2 separate regions of the Homo sapiens genome follow, and region 2 is linked to region 1. A link means that fine-mapping ties the variant in region 1 to the expression of a gene that starts in the linked region. Tissue or cell type: whole blood. Region 1 holds a variant in brackets; the other region holds the start of a gene. All regions are shown on one strand. Distances are between the middles of the regions.

Evidence for each region. PIP is the estimated chance that this variant, and not a neighbour inherited with it, causes the effect.
Region 2: it holds the start of RHOBTB2-AS1, and the variant in region 1 is fine-mapped to the expression of RHOBTB2-AS1 in whole blood (TOPMed, PIP above 0.99).

What each region holds. Positions count from the first base shown.
Region 1 is chr8:23,032,390-23,040,569 of GRCh38, forward strand. The region is part of intron 2 of TNFRSF10B (TNF receptor superfamily member 10b); the gene reads right to left. Among named protein-coding and RNA genes, the nearest start is that of TNFRSF10B, 33 kb to the right of the region's middle. The variant T/A (reference allele first, on the strand shown) is at 3,545.
Region 2 is chr8:22,995,716-23,003,895 of GRCh38, forward strand. RHOBTB2-AS1 (RHOBTB2 antisense RNA 1) reads right to left here and starts at 4,090. Exons shown (of 2, transcript XR_007060857.1): 1 at 3,964-4,090. It overlaps RHOBTB2 (Rho related BTB domain containing 2), which reads left to right and starts at 3,833. Exons shown (of 10, transcript NM_015178.3): 1 at 3,833-4,390. RefSeq lists silencers at 3,513-3,772, 3,993-4,162, 4,493-4,542 and an enhancer at 8,040-8,180.

The DNA of each region.
Region 1 (8,180 bases):
AAGAATGATCCAAAGAAAAGGGGACTAAAGCTGCCCTGGAATGAGGATATGTTTCAAAATTGGAAAGTGTGAGTCCCGCCAACTCTGCTTTTCTTTTACCAGATTGTTTTTGGTCAATAAGTCTTTTTAATTCCATACGACTTTGAATATAAGTTCTTCCATTTTTAAAATAACACCACTGAGATTTTGGTAGGGATTTCATTGAATCTGTATATTGCTTTGGGTAATTTAACACCATTTTGATCTATGAACATGGAATATCTTCCTGTTTATTTTGCTTTTTTAAAATTTCTTACAGCAATGTTTGATAGTTTTCAGCGTAAAAGTTTTGCAGTAGCAAAGAACAATCCAAAAAGGAAATTAAGAAAACAATTTCATTGACAATGACATAAAAATGAATAAAACATTTAGGAATGATATTTAACAAGGAGGTGCAAGACTTTTAAAAAACATTTGTCTGCACATCCAAGAAACTCAATGATCTCCAAGCAGGATAAGTTAAAAGAGAACTACACTGAGACACATTATAGTCAAATGGACAAAAGCCCAACACCAACAGAAAATCCTGAAAGTAGCAAGTGGCCCACTCAGTATGTACAAGGGAACCTCAATAAGGTTATTAGCTAATTTCTCACCAGGAACCATAGAGCCCAGAAGGGAGTGGGTAACATATTTAAAGTGCCAAGAAACAAAAACACAAGCATACAAAATCCTGCAACCAAGAATTTGATATCCAGGAACATTATCATTCAAGAATGAAGAAGAAATTAAGACCTTCTTAGATAAATGAAAGGTAATGGAGCACATTACTAGTAGATCTGCCCTGTGAAATGCTAAAAGGAATCCTTTAGGAGGTAATGTAATGACATTAGATAATAGCTCAAAGGCATACGAAGAGATAAAGAACACTGGAGGCCGGGTGCGGTGGCTCACGCCTGTAATCCCAGCACTCTGGGAGGCCGAGGCGGGCGGATCACGAGGTCAGGAGATCGAGACCATCCTGGCTAACACGGTGAAACCCCGTCTCTACTAAAAATACAAAAAAAAATTAGCCGGGCGAGGTGGCGGGCGCCTGTAGTCCCAGCTACTCGGGAGGCTGAGGCAGGAGAATGGCGTGAAACCCAGGGGCCGGAGCCTGCAGTGAGCCGAGATTACGCCACTGCACTCCAGCCTGGGCGACAGCGAGACTCCGTCTCAAAAAAAAAAAAAAAAAAAAAAAAAAAAAAAAAAAAGAACCCTGGAAAAGGTAACTATTTAGGTAAATATAAATGCTGGTACGCAGCTACTTAGGCTGCTATAATAAAATACCATAGACCAAGTGGCTTAAACAATAGACATTTATTTATCATAGTTCTAGAGATGGCCACCATCTTGCTGTGCATTTGCGTAACCTCTTCCTTGCACACACCAGAAGAGGGGGGGAGAGAGAGAGCGAGCAAGCGAGAGAGAGCAAGTTGTCTGGGTCTTTTCTTAAAAAGGCACTAATCCCATCATGAGGGCCCCACCCTCATGACCTCATCTAAACCCAATTACTTCCCAAAGGCACCATCTCCAAATACCATCTCATTGGATGGTAATGCTTCAACATATGATTTTGGGGACACAATTCAGTCTGTAGCACAGTATTATGGTACATTTGGTTTGTAAATCCTCTTATTTACTTATATGATTTAAAGAGCAAATGCAGAAAACAATAATTACAAATTGATGTTAATGGGCACACAATGTACAAGGATGTGATCTATAACAACAAGATGGAGGAGGAAAGACGGAGAAGTACAGGAGCACAGTGTTTGCATACCATTGAAGTTATGTTGTCATTACTCAAACTAAGCTCAAGTCCATCTCAGAAAGGGGCCAGTGGGTCCCCACACCCATCCTGTCTGATTTCCTCATTTTAGTATGTGTAATTGGAATAGACATACTCAGCAGCTGGCACAATCCCCACCTTCATTCCCTGACATGTGAAGTGAAGACTATTATGGTGGAAAAGACCAGGTGGAAGCCACCAGATTTGCATTTACTTAAAAAAAATAGTAAATCAAAAGCAATACCAGATGGGCATGGTGGCTCATGTCTGTAATTCCAGCACATTGGGAGGTCAGGGCAGGAGGATTACTTGAGGCCAGGGGTTTAAGACCAGCCTGGGCAACACAGTGAGACTCCATCTGTACACACACATACAAAATTATCCAGGTATGACAGTACATGCCTGTAGTCTTAGCTGCTCAAGAAGCTGAGGCAGGAGGATTGCCTGAGCCCAGGAGTTCAAGCTGCAGTGTGCTATGATTGTGCCACTGCACTCCAGCCTGGGTGACAGAGTGATACCCTGCCTGTAAAGCACAAAAAAACAAAAGCAATACAACATTCCTGGAGGGATTGCAGAGATCATTACCACCATCCAGGATGCATCTGTGGTGATTCCCATCACATGCCCATTGAACTTGACTATTTGGCCTGTGCCAAAGACAGATGGATCTTGGTGAATGACAGTGGATTATCATACGCTTAACCAGGTGGTGATTCCAGTTATAACTGTCCCAGATATGGTTTCATTGTTTGAGCAAATCGCCACATCCCTGGTACCCTGGTATGCAGGTGTTGAACTGGCAAATGCTTTGTTGGTCATACCTGTCAATAAAGACTCCCAGAAGCAGTTTGCTTTCAGTTGGCAAGGCCAGCAATATACCCTCACTATCCTGTCTCCGGGATGCATCAACTCGCAGCCCTATGTCATAATTTAGTTTGCAGGTATTTTTTTTTTTTTAATTAAACAGAGTCTTGCTCTGTCTCTCAGGCTGGAGTGCAGTGGCATGATCTCAGCTCACTGCAACCTGCACCTCCTGGGTTCAAGCGATTCTCATGCCTCAGCCTCCCAAGTAGCTGGGATTACCCATGTGTGCCACCACATCCAACTAATTTTTGTATTTTTAGTAGAGATGAGGTTTCACCATGTTGGCCAGGCTGGTCTAGAACTCCTGGTCTCAAGTGACCCAGCCACCTTGGCCTCTCAAACTGCTGGGATTACAGGCGCGAGCCACCACATCTGGCCTGCAGGGATATTGATGGCCTTTCCCTTCCACAAGATAACACACAAGACGATCCATTATACTGATGACATTATACTGATTGAACCTCACGAGCAAGAAGTAGCAACTATTCTAGACTTAATGGTAAGACATTTGCATGTCAGGGGGTGGGAAATAAATCTGACAAAATTTCAAGGGCCTTTTACCTCAGTAGAAGGACAACAACTGGGAAACAAATTCCTAGTTGTTGAATGATGTGGCACATAAGATATTCCTTCTCTTCTAAGATATTCTAAGATAAAAGATAAATTGTTGTATCTGCCACCCCCACCTCCCTACAACCAAGAAAATGACACAATGCCTAGTGTGCTTATTTTGATTTTGGTGGCAACATATTCCTCATTTGGGTGTGTTTCTCTGGCCTATTTATCAAGTCACCTAAAAATGTGCTAGTTTTGAGTGGTGCTCAGAACAAGAAAAGGCTCTGCAACAGGTCCAGGCTGCCGTAGACATTT[T/A]TCTGTCACTTGGGCCATACGACCCAGCAGACCCAACGGTGCTTGAAGTATTGGTGGCAGACAGCAATGCTGTTTTGAACCTTTAGTAGCCCACTCTAGGTCAACCACAGCACAGGCCCTTAGGTTTTGGAGCAAAGACTTGCCATCCTCTGCAGATAACTACTCTCCTTTTGAGAAACAGCTCTTGGCTTGTTTCTGGGCCTTAGTGCAGACTGAATGGTTAACCATAGGCCACCAAATTACTCTACGACCTGACTGCTCATCGTGAACTGAGTGTTATTTTGCCTACCAAGCCATAAGTTTGGGCACATACAGCCTAAAGTTTCCATTTCCATTTTCAAATGTAATTGGTATATATACAAAATTGGGCTTAAATAGGCCCTGAAGGCACAAGAAAGTTACATGAAGAAGTGGCCCAAGTGCCCATGATCCCCACTCCTGCAATATTACTTTCTTTTGCCTGGCCTGCACTTATGGCCTCATGAGGAATTCCCTATGGTCAGTTGCCAGAAGAAGGTTTACAGATGGTTCTGCACCACATACAGGTAACCCTTAGAAGTGGATGTTTGCAGCATCACATCCACTGTCTGGGACGTCCCTGAAGGACAGTGGTGAAAAGAAATCCGCTAGGCCGGGTGTGGTGGCTCACACCTGTAATCCCAGCACTTTGGGAGGCCGAGGTGAGTGGATCACCTGAGGTCAGGAGTTCGAGACTGGCCTGACCAACATGGTGAAACCTCGTCTCTACTAAAAATACAAAATTACCGAGCATGGTGGCACATGCCTGTAATCCCAGTTACTTGGGAGGCTGAGGCAGGGGAATCACTTGAACCCGGGAGGCAGAGGTTGTAGTGAGCCGAGGTCGCCCCATTGCACTCTAGCCCGGGCAACAATAGCGAAACTCCGTCTCAAAAAAAAGAGATCCTGCCACTGGGCAGAACTCTGAGCAGTACACCTGGTTGTTCATTTTGCTTGAGGGAAGAATGGCTAGACATGTAGTTATATACTGATTCATGAGCTGTGGTCAATGATTTGGCTGGAGGGTCAGAGGCTCTGAAGGAAAACTGATAACAAGGAAGTCTGGGGAAGAGGTGTGTGGATAGACCTTTCTCAATGGGTAAAAAAACCATGAAGATATTTGTGCCCCATGTGACACAAATATCTTCACAAAAAGTGATCTTAGCAGGGAAGGATTTTAATAATCAGGTGGATAGGATGACCTGTTCTGTGACTACCAGTCAGCTTCTTTCCCAGCCATCCTTGTCATCACTCAATGGGCTCATGAACAAAGTGTGCATGGTGGCAGGGATGGAGGTTATGTATGGGCTTAACAATACAGACTTCCCTCACCAAGGCCAACCTGGCTACAGCTGCTACTGAGTGCCCAATCTATAGGCAGCAGAGTCCAACACTGAGTCTCTGATATAGCACCATTCAGAGGGTCAGTCTGCCAGCTACCTGGTGGCAGGTTGATTATTACACTGAACCATTTCTATCATGGAGGGGGCAGCATTTTTACTGGAAGAGAAGCTTATTTTGCACATAGACTTGCCTTCCCTGCATGCAATGCTTCTGTCAAAACTATCCTCTGTGGACTCACAGAATGCCTTATCCACAGTCATGGTATTCACACAGCATTGCTTCTGATTGAGGGACTCACTTGATGGCAAATGAAGCGCCCACTATAATGGGCCTGTGCTCATGGAATTACTGGTCTTACCATGTTCCCCACCATCTCAAAACTGCTGGCTTGGTAAGATGGTGGGATATGGCTTTTTGAAAACTCATTTACAATGTCAGCTGGGTGGCAGTACCTTGAAGGGCTGCAACAAGGTTCTCCAGGAGACTGTCTATGCTCTGAATTATCCTCCAATACATGCGGTTGCTTCTTCCATTGCTAGGATTCATGTGTCCAGGAATCTAGGGGTGGAAGCAGGAATGGCCCCACTCCACATTACCCTTAGTGGCCTGTTATCAAAATTTTTGCTGCTTTATGCTTTGCTAGAGCTCTGAGTTTCAGAGGGAGGAATGATTCCATGAGGAGACACAACAGTGATTCTGTGTAACTTGAAGACTGCCACTTGGCCACTTTGGGTTCCTCATGCCTCTGAATCAACAGGCGAAAACCAGTTACACAAACCCTGCTGGCTGGATTGACTGATTCTGAACACAAAGGGGAAATTGAAGGGAAAATTGGACTGTTATTCCACAATGGACGTAAGGAAGAGGATGTCTAGAATACAGGAGATTCCTTAGGGCATCTCTTAGTATTACCATGCCCTGTGAGTAAAGTCAATGGAAAACTACCACGACCCTATTAAAGCAGGACCACTTATAGCTCAGACCCTTCAGGAATAAAGGTTAGTTCACTCTACCAGGCACAGAGCCATGACCAGCTGAGGTGCTTAGTGAGGGCACAGGGAATACAGAATGCACAGCGAAAGAAGCTTCTTATAAATACCAGCTACAATGACATGACCAGCTATGGAAATAAGGACTGTAATCATTATAAGTATTTCTTCCTTATTGTGTTATGTGTGTGTGTTTATGTGTAAATATATGTTAAGCGAATATCTGTGTTTTCTTCCTTCTCTTATCCCCTTGTTATGTAACACAAGATATTTTGAATTTATATCATAGTATTTAAGTATTGTTCACTTTATAGTATTTATGTTCCAGGGTATCAAGGAAAGGAGTAAACACCACTCAAGAACTTTGCATCCTCTTCTGGAGAAAGGGTTAGTGCGTTTTCAGTTGTATACAGGATAGCTGTATTATGTTAGGTGGAAATATAATCTTATTATTTCCATTACTTGGAGATCAAGTATGGTTTAAAAGAATTTCAAATCTTTAAAAATTCTGTATTAGTCAGGGCTCTCTAGAGCAGGGGTCTCCAACATTTTTGCCACCAGGGACTGGTTTCCTGAAAGACAATTTTTCCACGGACTGGAGTTGGGGGCATGGGGATGGTTTCAGGATGATTCAAGCATGTTACATTTATTGTGCACTTTATTTCTATCACTATTATATGGTAACATATAATGAAATAATTATACAACTCACTATAACGTAGAATCAGTGGAAGCCCTGAGTTTATTTTCCTGCAACTAGATGGTCCTATCTGGGGGTGATGGGAGACAGTGACAGATCATCAGGCATTAGATTCTCATAAGGAGTGCGCAACCTAGATCTCTCAAATGTGGAGTTCACAATAGGGTTCACGCTCCTATGAAGTCTAATGCTGCCGCTGATTTGACGGCATGCAGAGCTCGGGCAGTAATGCTCACTCATCTACAGCCCACCTCCTGCTGTGTGGCCTGGTTCCTAACAGGCCACGGACCAGTACTGGTCCATGGCCTGGGGGTCAGGGGCCCCTGCTCTAGAGAGATAAAGATTTATCTTAAGGAATTGGTTCACATAACTGTGGAGGCTGGCAAATTCAAAAGGTACAGGATAGGCCAGCAGAGAAGAGTCACAGCTCAGGTCTGAAGGCTGCCTGCTGGCAGAACACCCTCTTTCTTGGTGGAGGTCAGTCTTTTTTCTATTGAGGCTTTCAACTGATTAGATGGGACCTGCCAACATTAAGGGGGTAATCTGCTTGACTCAAAGCCCACTGATTTAAATGTTAATCCCATCTAAAACCAACAACAAAACAACAACAACAAACACACCTTCACAGAAACATCTAGGATAATATTTGGCCAAGTATCTGGGTAACCAAGTTGACACATAAAATCAACCATCACAAGTCAACCTTGCTCCATACACATACATGTCCTTAAGATCGACGTCAGTGGTCACACAACGTGCAAGGATGTGATCTATGACAGCAACAATAGAAAGCTGGAGAGATGGAGTGGTACAGGAGCACAGTATTTGGATTGCAATGAAATTCTGCCGGTATTATAAAACTACCTGTTTAGATACTTAAGAAGGTAATTGTAATCTTCAAGGAAACCAGTAAGAAAATAAGTTTTAGGCTAGGTGCGTGGCTCATACCTGTAATCCCAACACTTTGGGAGGCCGAGGCAGGTGGATCACTTGAGGTCAGGAGTTTGAGACAGCCTGACCAACATGGTAAAACCCTGTCTCTGCTAAAAATCAAAAATTATCCAGGCATGGTGGCTACTCCCTGTACTCAGGAGGCTGAGGCAGGAAAATCGCTTAAACCCAGCAGCCATAGGCTGCAGTGAGCTGAGATCGCACCACTGCACTCCAGCCTGGGTGACAGAGCAGACCCTGTCTCAAAAAATATATATATATCTATATATATATTTAAGATATGTATCTTTAAGATATATACTAAGTATATATTTAAATATATATTTATTAAATATATATATAATATATATTTATTAAATATATATAATATATATTTAATAAATATATATACAAAATATATATTTATTAAATATATACAAAATATATATTTAATAAATATATATACAAAATATATATTTATTAAATATATATACAAAATATATATTTATTAAATATATATATACAAAATATATATTTATTAAATATATATACACAAAATATATATTTAAGAAAAACAGAAAATATATTTTAAAATATGCAGAAAAGAAAAGAAGTGAGTGAAAATGGTACATGCCAAGAAATAAACTAAAGTTTT
Region 2 (8,180 bases), 37 kb before region 1:
TTTGCTCATGGCTGGTTCTGAACTTTGCCCCAGCTGCAGGGTAGGAACACCACGTGCCCCAGCCTGCACATGGCAGGGGATGGGGGGCGGAGCTCATGTCACAAGGCCCATGGGGTGGGCTCCGCAGAGGCTGTAGTGTTCCAGGAGAGGGGTGCCATGAAAGCGCGGTTAGTAGCCTGCAAAGTGTTGAAGGGTAAAGCTGCCTGTGAAGCAAAGGGAAGGTGCAGGTTGGAGGATGGACTGAGCCAGGCGGTCTGCGTTGGGCTGGCACTGGGAAGGGGCCTTCACAGCCACAGGGAGAGCAACGCTGGTGGGACTGGCCGGGGAGCCTGCTGCGCTTTGCTAAGAGCCAGGATGGAGGTTTCTCTTTCCCCAGAAAAGCCTCCTGTTCACAGGCAGGCATCTGCCCGGCTTCAGGAAAACAGCAGCCGCGTGATGGCCTGGAGGAGGGTGGTGTGGGGAGGCATAGAGGGGGTGCCTTCTGGGGACAGGTTCCAGGGGTTTATGTCACTGGGGAGGTGGGTCACAAGAGGGATTTGGTGAGGGAAGAGATGCTGGGGTTGGGCAGGGGCAGGAGATTGTAGAATGGAACCTGCCTCCATGCTGCCAGGAAGCCCTTGGGCTACAGCCACGCAGCCAGGCACATGGCAGGACATTGCCAGACCCACCAGCAGAAGCAGATTTGGGAAGCCAGCAATGGGGGGAGTCAGTGCTCAGGCTGAACTGCTCCTCGGAATCACACCAGTGTTTCCAAGCTGCAGCAAATGGGCAGAGAGGGCTGGTGTGTGTGTGTGTGTGTGTGTGTGTGTGTGTGTGTGTGTGTGTGTGTGTGTGTGTGTGTGTGTGTGTGTGTCTGTGTGTCTGTGTATGTAACGGAATGGAGGAGGCAGAGAAAGAAAGAGGCCAGGAGCTTTTGTCTCCCACCCAGGCCTGCCTTGAGAAGTCACCTGAATAGAGGAAAATGGACTCCTCAGGGCCTGGGGTGGGAGGGCGCAGTGAAGGGAGTGGGAGGCTTCCTGTGCTGTGAGACGCTGCTGCCTGCCGGGTGCTAACAGCTGGGGACAGGGATGGGCATGAGAAGGCCCAACAGCACCTTGCTTGCTGGTGGGGAAGCCTGGCCTCTGGGAGTGGCCCTGTTTTCCAGGATCTGGCATTGGAGAGATGGGCAAAGATGAAGGGACGTGCCAGATCCTCAGCTGGGGTACCAGGGGCTGGAGGCTGTCTTGAATAGCAGAGTGGGGGTCCCGGGGCAGTCCTGGCCAGGGCTGGCTGGGAAGAGGCCTGGTTTTAGCCACAACTGGGGCACAGGCCGGCGGCTGCAGCTTGCTAGTGGTCTGCCCCTCATACAGCGTGGGGAATGCTGCCATCTGAGCTGTGAGTAGTGAACCGCTGGAGCTCCTCGCAGGCTGGCCTGAGGAGGAGGTCTGCAGAGGTCCCCAGACGGCCTAGGGTGGGACATGGATGGGGCGGCTTGACAGTGACAAGGGGCTGCAGAGGATGGGCTGGGGGGCACTGGTAGGAGAAGGTGGGGACTTGGAGGAACTCTGATGATAAGAGGGAACTGATTGGGGCGCCAACCATGACAGCCCTAGAGGTGAAATGATGGGGAAGGACTTTGATTTGGAGAAAGGCTGAAAGAGGGAACTGCATGCAAAAAGCAGGGCTGGGAATTGAGGGAACCTCCCCAGCAAAGCTCCTGCCTCTGCCTGAAACAGTTCACTGAGTGTGAGCGGGGCGGGGCGGGGGCTGTGGGGGTGCAATTTCATTTGACACCCACATTTTTGTCCAAGACCCTTCCACCCCAATCAACACTACACCTTGGAATTCACACAGTCCAGCCTGGTTGAGGCTTCCAGGCTGAGCTGGCTTTTTCTCCCAAGGCAGAAAGGGCATTGGCTCTAGCTTACAGTCCGAGCAGCCACCCTCTCCTGCTTCATGACTTTGGGTGGACGGGAGTTCTGTCTTCCTACTCCTTGCTCCACAGGGGCTATGGTCCTGCCAGGACAGGTGAAAGGTGATGTCAACTGGCATCTGGCATTCAGCTGGTCTCTGGAGGTGGGTGGAGGGAACAGGGTGTCCGTGGGAGAGACCCTGGCCTGCCGTGGGAATCATGCAGAGATCTCAAGTTATGATTTTCTCTGGCGCAGGGGCTCTTTGGCACACAGAAGATGGGGTAAGTCTCTTCAATGCCAAACATGTGGAGGAAGAACATGTGTGAGCATGGTTTACTTTCTCTCCTAAATATGTATTCAAATAAGTACTTTCTGGTTTATGGAGGGTGAGTTCTAACCAGAAATGAGAAGTAAGTAGCACTGTCAGTCATTGTTAACCTCTTGGCTAGCTCTGAGTAGATTGAGAAAGGGGTGGGAGAAGCATCCTCCAACAACCGAGCACTTCCTGTACATTGACCAGGTAGGTAGGCACGTTGATCACAAACACCTTGAGGGACAGCTTCCAAGTATATGCATTCACAGATGAGAAGCATGCTTCAGACAACACAAAATTCATTTTTAACCCGGCTTTCTTTTGGCAGTAAATTTCTCTTCCTAATCATATTTTGCATAAACTAATATTAGAGTGGATTTGCATTTTCAGAGCACAAGATGGAGGAGTGGTGGAGGCGGTTCAGGTGGGTGGCAGGCTGGTCTGGGCTTTAAAAATTGTCCAGAGGTAACTGAGGAGATGAATCAAACCAGACTGAGCTGACTACTTAACACTAGCAGTCAAGATCATCCTGGCTGGGCATGGTGGCTCACGCCTGTAATCCTAGTACTTTGGGAGGCCAAGGCAGGCAGATCACCCGAGGTCAGGAGTTCGAGACCAGCCTGGCCAAGGTGGTGAAACCCCGTCTCTACCAAAAATACATAAATTAGCTGGGAATAGTGGCGTGCACTTGTAGTCCCAGCTACTCGGGAGGCTGAGGCAGAACTGCTTGAACCCAAGAGGCGGAGGTTGCAGTGAACCAAGATTGCACCACTGCACTCCAGCCTGGGCAACAGAGGGAGACTCAAAAAAAAAAAAAAAAAAAAAAGATTATCCTGATAAAACCAGCCTTGAATATGGAAAGTGTCTTCTAGGGACCCCTCAGGTTATAGATGTTATACCTTAGAATCTCTCTATTTTACAGAGGGGTAAATTGAGGCAGAAAACCCAAAGAAGGCTTAGGGACGATTTTCGAGGCTACTCACTTCATGGTGTTTCTTTCAGAGATTAGCAGCTATTACTGAACTCCAGGAGGCAACAGGAGGGGGATGGGATGGAGGTGGGGACCCGCTGAAGAAGGCCTAGGTGGGAGACAGGTAACGTGGTACAGGTACCCACCCCACAACTCATTAAGGGCCATGGAGGGAGGAAGGCTCTCAAGTGCCACGAAAATTCCCAAAGCAGCAGAGGGCTTGTATGGAAACGCCGGTTATTCGTCCCTACCCGGCCCCCGCCCCCCGCCCCCCCGACTGCCCCTGCCGTCGCCTCCCCGTGGGCAAGTGGTGGGGGCCTGGGCTTACAACCACACGTTCTCCTCCAACTAGCATCCCTTCCAGGGTGCACTAGGATGCCTCTCAGAGGTTCTCCCCCGCCTCCCGAAGGAAAGGGGAAAACCCCGTGGGCGTCCGGAGAGCCTTTGCGCCTCGCCAGGTGGAGGGACCGGCGCCACCCAGACCCGCGAGCCGAGACCCTCCCCGCGGCGTCGCTGCGGGAGGGGCGGAAGAGCGCGGGCGGTGGGCGGGAGCGGTGCTGCGAGGCGGGATCTGCGGGGCGTCCAATCCCCTTCTTCCCCCGCCCGCCCCCTCCCCGCCCCCCGAACGCTTTCCACCAACTGCGCGCGGCAGTGGGCGGGGCCCGTCACGGCTGTCGTCTTGGGTGCGATTTTTTTCTCCTCCTTTTTTTACCCTCCCGTTTTTTTCTTTTCTTTTTTTTTTCCCTATCCTTTTTTTGTGAATGAAAAAAGGAGGTCGCGAGCGGTACCTGGGACTGCAGCGCCAGGCGTCTTCGCGGCAGCGCCTTCGCCGCGGGCCCGGGCGCGTAGCGGCGGCGGCCTCGCCCCTCTCCCGGCGCCCCTGCGCGCCGCCCGCTGCCTCCGCAGCCCGGCTCCGCGCGCCGCCGTGACATTGGGCGCCTGGCGCGCGGGGCGATGCTGATCCGGAAGGGGCAGCGGCTGCAGTGCAGCGCGCGCGTCCGCTCCTGGGCCCACGTCCGGCCTGGGCTGCCCTGCCGGAGTTTCTGAGTGGCCGCGAGCTGGCCGGGAGGCTGGAGCCCAGCAGCAGCGCGGCGGCGCCGGCGTCGTCCCAACTTGCAGGCGCGGAGGGACCCCTGACATTTCACTAAAATGAGCGTGCTCAGCAGGAAGAGATGTGTTCCTCACGCTAGAAGCCACCCCGTCACATGTAGTGGTGTAAGTAGATGGCTGCTTGCGGTTATGGCGGGGTGGCCAGCAGCCCTTGCAGACGCGCCGCTCCGCCCTCCCTGCCCTGCCGCGCCCCTCGCTACGTTCCCCGGGCCCCGCTAGTCCCTGGGCTCTGGCTTCGGCTGCTGGGTACAGCGGGGCTGGAGCCTAATCCTTTCCGGTGTTTCTAGGGAAAGGAAGATGACTTGATTGCTTCGGCCTGTCGTGCCCCTCCCCCTTCTCGATGTTTAAAAATTTTTAAATTTCTATTTTGTGTGTGTGCAGAGTAGCGTGTCAGAAAAAAGGAAAAACGGTCCAGAGTGGTGGGAGTGATTCTGTTAAGAAAACAAACACAAAACAACAGTGGAATTGGGGTGTTTTGCTGGCGGTTCCGGAGCTGGTTCTTTGAACTCAACTCCATTGCAGTCTATGTAACTGAGTTCTGTGAAACTACTGGGGAGATCTTTGGCGGTGTTTGGTGATGTGTCCACATTTTAGGTTTGAGGGGGCTTATCTGTGTTTAGGCTTGCATTTCTTTAATCTGACCATTCAGGGTCCCTTTGGGCCTTGCTTTCTGTTGGATCTGCACGGGGCTTCTTGCAATGCCAGCGACCCCCGTGGGAGCCTCCCCGAATTAGGAGTCCACTCTCTCTTTGTTCTTCTCCTTCCAATTCTCCATTCAATCCATCTCCCTTGATTTTACCTTCATTTTCAGGATTTTCCTCCCATTCCCATTTTGTAAGATGATGTGGGATACTGGTTGCTAGGAGACAAGCCAGGCTCCCAGGGAGATTCTGTTGTTTCCTTGACAACCAGACTAGGGCAGCCACAGATGAACAAGCCTCCTATCAGCTGTGGGAGGGAAAGGGGCCCTTTCTGAGCTCTGCAAAGAGTGTGTGTAGGGGTGTGGGGGTGGGACTGGGAGAGCACGAGGTTTGTAGCTAATTTCAGCACACCTTGGGTTTTGGCTTGCACCAAGTACAAAGAGCTGGGAGAGCGGTGGGCAGGAGGCTGTTTTTGGAGGGGCACAGGGATCATGGGACAGGGATGGAAGGAACACATGCCAGTGACTTTGCGATTGTCATGGAAGAGGAGTGAGTTGGGGGTTGTGATGCCCAGGGCTGGGTGGTGAGGAGGTCATAGTTTATGGAGGTTGATTGAGTGGGGATGAGGCAATTGTGAGGGAGAGTCTGGAGTCAGGGAAGAAGAGAGAGCCGGAGGGAGAGGGGAAGCTGAGAGGCTCACTGAATGGGCTGTATCACCATATATCAGCAATGAGTGGGCTGTATCACCATACATCAGCAATGATACAACATCAGCAACATCCTAGGGCAAAAATTATATTACTCTTGGCACACTCTCTCCAGGACAGGATCCTCCTTTAAGACAGGCCTGATTAGACTAAGAGTTCTAACACTTGAATTGGGCCAGTCTGTATCTTAAAGACAGATATAATTACACATATAGATATGCAATCTAGCATTATATAATACCACATTACATAAGAAGACAAATACCTCCTTTCAGCCCAGCCTCTCTTGGCACAAATTAACCACGGTTCAGGAGACTCTTCCAATGTCTTCATACCCATTTCCCAGAGGGGGAGACTGATGCCCAGAAAATATAAGTGACTTGCCTCTTCCTAGATAGGACAGTGAAGTTTGCCAGTCAGGCAGTTGGGACAGGGTAGAAAGGGTGAGATGATACAAACAGAGAGGCAGCTGAAGGACAAGGGGACTGCTGAAGGGGCTGGGGAATGGATGGAAGGGGTTGCGCAACCCAGAAGGTCTGATGTCTAAACTCATGGCACAGTATTTGTCAATTTCCACTTGTTGATTGGCTGACCACTGCTTAACTCTAGAGGTGACATAGCACAGGTGGGCAGCAGTGTTTTCATCACAAAGTAGCTGAACTTGGCCCAGCACTGCTCTGCTGGTGTTCTGGCATTATTCTCACTGTCAAGGTGCTCCTGAATTTGAGAACTGGCATCCCTCCATTAGGCCTCCTCATTCCCCCGCTTCTGTCTACAGACCTACATGCTGGGAGAATCGGAACTTGAGAAAGAAGTTCTTTTGGCTCTTGGGTTTTAATCTTTATCCTCCAGCTGCACATATTTTGTATTTGGGATTATATCTGTTTTGGTATTCACTCGACAAAACAGAAACCACAGCCCAGATGCTGCCTCCTGGCGCCAGCACATTCCTCAACTTGAGATCAGGAACTGTCAAAGTGGGGTTCCCGGTCCTCAGTTCAGGAGAGAGAATTGGGAGGAGGAAGCCTGTGGTTAGAATAACAGTTCTTAACAGTTCTCTGGGCCAGGTGTGGTGGCTCACGCCTGTAATCCCAGCACTTTGGGAGGCCAAGGCGGGCAGATCACTTGAGGTCAGGAGTTTAAGACCAGCCTGACCAACATGGCGAAACCCCGTATCTACTAAAAATACAAAATTAGCCGGCATAGTGGCACACACCTGTAATCCCAGCTACCTGGGAGGCTGAGGCAGGAGAATCACTTGAACCCAGGAGGCAGAGGCTGCAGTGAGCCGAGATCATGCCACTGCACTCCAGCCTGGGTGTCAAGCGCAAAACTCCGTCTCAAAAAAATACAAAAACAAAAAACGGTTGTCTGCTGAGGGAGGGTTAGGAGAGAGAAGGGGTGGTACAGTTGCCCTGGAGACCATGAGGGCACTGCATGGAGACCTCGTTGAAGGGTCCAGATCCTGTAACATTCCAAAAAGGCGGAGGAGGTTGTCTCATTGAGAAGTCCTTGCTGCACTTTTTGCTTAGGTTGCTGAGATGCATCCACTCGCACGGATCCCAGTTGCTATCGTTACTTGGATATTTCGGTCTGCATCCCTGCATGCTGGCATCCAGTTACAGCCCAGCAGGAATGGAGCCTCCCTGTTGTTGCTGGTGGCCTGGCTCTGGGCTGGATGGCTCAGCAGCCAGGGTGCCTGGGCAGCCTCCAGCACTCAGAGCTCAGCCTTCCTTAGCCTAGGAGGGATGACTCCGGGCTGCTAAAGCCCCCCCAGACGACTTTCATACACACAGGAATGTGAGTGGGGCGGGCAGATGACGCTGGCGAAACCAAGCGTCCTAATCACGCTGGCCCTGCCCCTGCTCCCTAATCCCAGGAGGGTGGATGCCGAGGCCAGGGCCTCCTGGCGACAGATTTTTAAACACGAACATGACATCTGACTACAGAAGTGCCTTCTGTTTGTTCATTCAAGCCATCCCTCTCTGGGGGTGGACAAGCCACTTCCTCTCTGCTCAACATCGAAGGCAACTGAGGCAAGCATTTGCCCAGAAATTCAGGCTCAAATTTCTGATCTTTTGCTTTCTGGCAATCCCATCGCCCATGTAGCCAGTTTAGTGAACATCACCTAGGAGTGCCAGCTGCCTGGGATCTTCAGCCTGAGGATCATCCTCCCTAGGAATGGGAAGGGCAGAAGAGGGTGGAGGTGGATCTCACTCTCTGACGCTGGGGGCAGGGTGCTGGGAGGACAGCCCCCCGTAGGGGAAGTAGAGGCCCATTGGCCACTGACTGTATCATCATAGGCCTGTGGTTCCCCTCACCCGCATCTGAAAGCTGGACCTGTAGCTGAGCATGACACATGGGCAACAGGACAGACCCCGAATAGAGAAAGGGAGGCCCCTGGGCTGGTCAGGTGCATCCAGGAACCTCCCCATCCTAGAGAGGCTGGGAGGAAAAACTCTTGCATCTCCATAAAGGGGACTGGGGTCTGGGGTTGAAGCATGCACTTAGGCAGGCTAGGGCTTGGAAATCCACCACCACCAGAGA